Linked DNA regions of Homo sapiens: region 2 is linked to region 1. A link means that fine-mapping ties the variant in region 1 to the expression of a gene that starts in the linked region. Tissue or cell type: monocytes after R848. Region 1 holds a variant in brackets; the other region holds the start of a gene. All regions are shown on one strand. Distances are from middle to middle.

Region 1 (2,687 bases):
TCTGCTGGAATCAAGGTATAATTTTTTTCAGTAAAATTACATTGGACTTCCTAGAAAAACAAAAAAAAGAAAGGCATTAATCAGAAAAAAAATTAATAGAATTTCACCAAATTTCATATTTAAGCACTTAGACATTAGAAGGACGTTATTTTGGGAAAAAAACCTACTATCTAATATTTTGGTGTTACAGTAGAGCAAATCTTTTTCTTTATTGGGATGAAATACTAAAAATTAAGGATATTCTGATACATACAATTGAACAAAGAGATTCCAATTTGTCATACGGGTATTTTCCAACTGTTATTACATGATCATTACAGAAAGTAATGCTACTGGAATATTCCCATTTATATATGTGGAAATGTATGGTAAATAATAATTCTGTTAACATTTAATATTCCAGTGTGCACAATTGCTTTATAGTGAGGAAATTATTTTAAACTATATGTGTTTTTAAAATCAGCAGAGCTAACAACATTATACCTAGGGCTGTTCAATAATTAATAAATGGGCTGGGCATGGTGGCTCACGCCTGTAATCCCAGCACTTTGGGAGGCTGAGGCAGGCGGGTTACCTGAGGTCAGGAGTTCAAGACCAGCCTGTCCAACACAGTGAAACCCTGTCTCTACTGAAAATACAAAAAAAAAAAAAAGTCAGCCGGGCATGGTGGCAAGCACCTGTAATCCCAGCTACTTGGGAGGCTGAGGCAGGATAATCGCTTCAACCCAGGAGGCGGAGGTTGCAGTGAGCTGAGATCATGCCATTACACTCCAGCCTGGGCGACAGAGCGAGATTCCGTCTCAAAAGCAAGCAATCAATCAATCAGTCTGAATAAACTCTCTGGTTTAACTCTCTTAAACTCTCTGGGTTTAACAGCTCAAAGTTTGGTGTTTTAAAAGGAAATATTTATCTTTTATCAGAAATGGAGCCAGGTATTGAATTTAAAGAGCCACACAATCTGAAATTCTTTATGTGGATATAGATGGAAAGAAAGAAATAGTTCTTGTTTTTACTGAACAGTAAACTAAGAATAAATAGAACTAAGAATAGTTCTGGTTTATTACTGTTTTTGCAGTTAGATTTTTTCACCAATAATAATTCAATAGCAGTTTCTCTCATAAATATGTGCTTTTTAAAAAAAAGTTTCCTACATTTTAAACAAGATTTTACTCTTAAAACTAATTTCTGATTTTATAGTGAAAATTTTCAGATCTCTCCCTTTAATCAACTTTTAAAGAACTCAGTTTTTATAAATGAAGGCTGCTTTTGTCAAATTGGAATTTGGATATACAGAGCTAAATAAACTCTTAATTTTAGTAGGTCAGATTTTCTTTGCTTTCTTATTGCCCTTTTATATTTTACTAAATATACAGAAAATGTACCTTTGAAAATATTTTTACTATTTTGATTGTAAAAACTTACTCTTTTAGAAGACTGGATTTTGTCTGATAATAATATCATGGAGAGGGGCCAAAAGAGGATTGTGATGCCTGTGACTTTCATGTTGCAGACCTGATAGAAAAGAGAGTATTTTCATTAAGGACATTTTTATTTTTCCCTCTTTTGAATCTGTTTATT[C/CT]TTTTTTTTTTTTTTTTTTTTTGGCTGAGACAGGGTCTCACTCTGTCACACAGACCTGGTGGCATGGTCACAGCTCACTGCAGCCTTGATCTCCCAGGCTTAAGCAGTCCTCCCAACTCAGCTTCCTAAGTAGCTGAAACACAAGCATGCACTACCATGCCTGGCTAATTTTAAAAATTTTTGTAGAGATGGGGTCACCATGTGTTACTCAGCCTGGTATCAAACTCCTGGGTGCGAGCCATTTCCCCCCAGCCACTGGCGTGGCCTTGAAAAGTGCTGGGATTATAGATATGAGCCACTTACCCTGGCCTTTCAAATCTACTTTTTCTTGAAATACATAAAATGTGAAACAAGTGCATGGCCATTCACCATCCTTGCACTCTGATCTTAATAAACTAGAAAGCCCCTTTGAAGAATGAGACTGATTTCTATTTTTTCTTTTTAGAGAAAATTAATATTTTTAAGTGTGTCTCATTAGTTTCTAGATCTCATGAAAGGAGCTTTAAAGCAATTTAAGTGGTTGTAAATTTTAAAAATTTAATATAGAAGTGCACAAAAGAAATTCAGGAAAACGTATATTTATGCATGTTTAAGTATATGCTTATATTGATGGTCTTGATTTTTTCAATTTTAGGCATTATCTATTGGCATTATCTATCTATTATTCTTGACTTAAAACTGTGGGAGATGAGAATCTTTAGCACTCTTTTTCCCCCCATGGTAACTTTTAAAAATTTTATTGAGGCGTGGTAGATATACATAGTTTTGGGGTACATGTGATAAAGTAGTGCATTCATATAATTTTTAAAGATCAAATTAATGTACTTGGGATATCCAACACGTTAAATATTTGTCTTTTCTTTATAATGGAAACATTCAAATTCTCTTCTAGCTGTTTTTAAATGTACAGTAAATTAGACGAGAGGGAGAGCATCAGAAAATAGCTAATGGATGCTGGGCTTAATACCTAGGTGACGGGTTGATCTGTGCAGCAAACCACCGTGGCACATGTTTACCTATGTAACAAACCTGCATAACCTGCACATGTACCCCGGAACTTAAAAATAAAAGTTGAAGGAAAAAAATTACTGTAAACTATAATTACCCTA
Region 2 (2,687 bases), 43 kb before region 1:
ATCATCTATAAATGATATAAAAGCTGAAAATGAATTTATTAAAGGACATTAAGCAGCTCACAGACTCTCCCAGAAGCTGAAGAAACAAGCTAGAGGTTCTCCTCCCAATAAAGCCTCTGAGTACCTAACACTGCAGCTTGCAACAACACACTGATGCTGGACACTGGTTGCTGGTGATAGAACATTGCAGTCTCGGAAACGATGTAGTTACTGCGGCTGTCACCCTTACTTCAACAGACTCTCTGAAGTCCTGCTTCTGGTTGTCATTCAAGTTTGAGTTGAGTCCACCAAATTAGATTGGAGAGTCTAGCAAGCAATAATACTCATGTCCCAGTAATAAGGAAGACTAGGAAAGCCAGTATCTGTCACTTTCAGTTCCTGTAAGGGTGTTGGGGGGCAGGGTAAGGGAGAAACTCTGCCAAAAGGATGACAAATGGCCACTGCAAATAGGGTGAGCTCAAATGAGATAATTACATGAAAATGTTTCACAAACTAAGGGAGAATTCAGCCACATAACATTATCTCATTTTGTGTTGTATTGATTTTTAACTCCTCGAAGGCAGGCAAGTTGGAAATAATGTGTAAAATAATGTTAAAATCCCAATACATATGCAATCACATTTAAGCTGTTATCAATGAAGATTGGAAGGAAACATACAGTAAAAGTTATTTTATTAGAGAAGTGGGATTTAAGGTGAAGTAGTTCTTAAATTAAAAAAAAAAAAAAAAAGGACACTTTCCATTGAATTCACAGTCTTCCCCACAAACTTGGATCCAAATTCTAATGAAAGGAAGCTTAAAGACGCAAAGCTTCTGGTGAAAGCAGGAACGGAACAGTTGGTGCCAGAATCGCATCCATACTTCATGATGCGTTGTGTACGCTATGCCGTCCTAATAGGAAGGAAAACTACCACAAATTAGGAGTTTAGAAAATTGCACAATGCTGCCTACCACTTAACTTCAAATGTAACCTGTTAACAACGTTAGCCGACGTGAGGTTACCTAGGGACATAGCAAAACTCGCTAGAGTTACTTCAAGTAAGGCACACGGAGGTTGCTCTGATTATCAAGAAAACCAAACGTTCACATAAAATGTTTGTCTTCCAGCCGCCCCGCTGTTTTCCACTTTTTCCAAAAAGCACTGAAGCGTGGTGAAGAAACAAACATATCCTCAATTCTCGCGAGAGCTCCGTGTGTAACCAAGGGCTGAGGCGGAGGATTGGTCACTCAGGATGAGGAGCCTCCGCTATCCCGCCCCCGTTGCCGGGATACGCCGCGGCGCACGGCAGTTAGTGGGTAGGCCTGAGAGCCGAGGAAAACTGAGCGTGGGCCTCAGAAAGAAGTTAAGGCACCCGCGAGCCGGGCAACTGCCCTCCTTCCGCGCCGGCGGAGGTGAGAATCCCCGGGTCCCATCTCTTCCTCCCTCCCTCCCACGTCTGTTCTCTTGCCTTGGAGATGCTGATCCGCTCCAAACAAAACAAATTCAAACTCGGTCTTAGCTAACTGTTACCGTCGGGCCTGTAGCCAGGCCAGGCATGTACCAATTCTAGTCGAGCGAAGGTTGCGAACAGACCTCCTCCAACAGCCCGACCCCTCCCCGACCCCCCGCAGGAGACCCGCCAAGCACAGAGCAGAGGGAAGGACCGCGATGGGCTGAAGGATTTTAGTCAAAGCAATACATTTCTGCCTCTTACAGTGGAAGGGACTTATTTCTGTCTGTTGATCACAGTGCGGGCAGTTAGCAACTTTCCACTTATTCACCTGTGTGAGAATGGTTGGCTTAGGGAGGATAACGATAGTAATAATAATTAGAAGCAGATGTTTTAAATGTAATACTTATCGTCTTCACAACAGCCCTGCAAGGTAGATGTCACCCTTCTGTTTTACAGAAGATGAAATCCTGAGGGGTTAATTAAGGTGGCAAGATTATGCAGCCGCTAACTTTGTCAGCACTAGTTTGTATCGCTAATCATTCTGGATCCAAAGGCCAGGCTGCCTCTCTGTGTGAATAATTGGAAATTGTGTGACTCTTTGATTGAATAACCCCGAAGTTAGTGGTATATTTGTTGCTAATGCCCGCCTCTTAATCCCACTGGTAATAATATAATGGTAAGCTTTTTTTCACCACAGTAAAACGGTGGCAAAGAAAATTGGGTGAAATTTTTTATGTTGTACATTTTCTCAAAGTTAGCAGGAAACCTAGAGTAATATCTTTTCCACTGGAAAGAGATGTTTATTGTACTCGTTTTCTTCTGGAAAAACCATTTTGATCATACACCGTCTTCCTTTTCAAAGAGTCATTTCATGAAATTCCTTTTTCCATTTGAAATTCTTTTGCTTTGTACATAGAGTTCAAAATGGCAAGGAATTAGAATCAGGGAGCTAGTGGGGTCAGGAAGATTGATGTGAACATATTCAAATGAGATATCTGAATGGAAATTTCAGATAAACAATTGAAAACTCAAAATTGGTGCCCAGTTGAAAGGGCAGAACTGTAGACATTGATTAGTGAGCCGTACACATAGTTGGAGTTATAAAGATGCATGACTGTAGAAAGGATAGAAGCAGTCCAAGGACTGATTACGAGTAATGCTAAGAAAAGTCAGAAAAGTAGTACTGGACATAGAGTGTAGAAACAGAGAAATCATTTTAGTCCAACACACGCTTTGTTTGCCTTTTTTTTTTTT

Which allele goes with the higher level. Alleles are on the strand shown, and positions count from the first base shown. SD is a standard deviation of normalised expression in the study named.
For the expression in monocytes after R848 of the gene that starts at base 1,288 in region 2, allele C in region 1 goes with a higher level than allele CT (moderate effect, 0.59 SD a copy in Quach 2016).

The links. PIP is the estimated chance that this variant, and not a neighbour inherited with it, causes the effect.
Region 2: it holds the start of IFT74, and the variant in region 1 is fine-mapped to the expression of IFT74 in monocytes after R848 (Quach 2016, PIP 0.95).

Annotation. Positions count from the first base shown.
Region 1 is chr9:26,998,192-27,000,878 of GRCh38, forward strand. All of the region lies in intron 8 of IFT74 (intraflagellar transport 74), which reads left to right. LRRC19 (leucine rich repeat containing 19) reads right to left here. Exons shown (of 5, transcript NM_022901.3): 2 at 1,423-1,512; 3 at 1-50. The coding sequence starts at 1,503. Among named protein-coding and RNA genes, the nearest start is that of LRRC19, 6.1 kb to the right of the region's middle. The variant C/CT (reference allele first, on the strand shown) is at 1,579.
Region 2 is chr9:26,955,125-26,957,811 of GRCh38, forward strand. It overlaps IFT74 (intraflagellar transport 74), which reads left to right and starts at 1,288. Exons shown (of 20, transcript NM_025103.4): 1 at 1,288-1,392. It overlaps IFT74-AS1 (IFT74 antisense RNA 1), which reads right to left and starts at 1,183. Exons shown (of 2, transcript NR_121605.1): 1 at 1,003-1,183; 2 at 656-891. RefSeq lists enhancers at 500-1,235, 1,236-1,970 and a silencer at 2,567-2,687.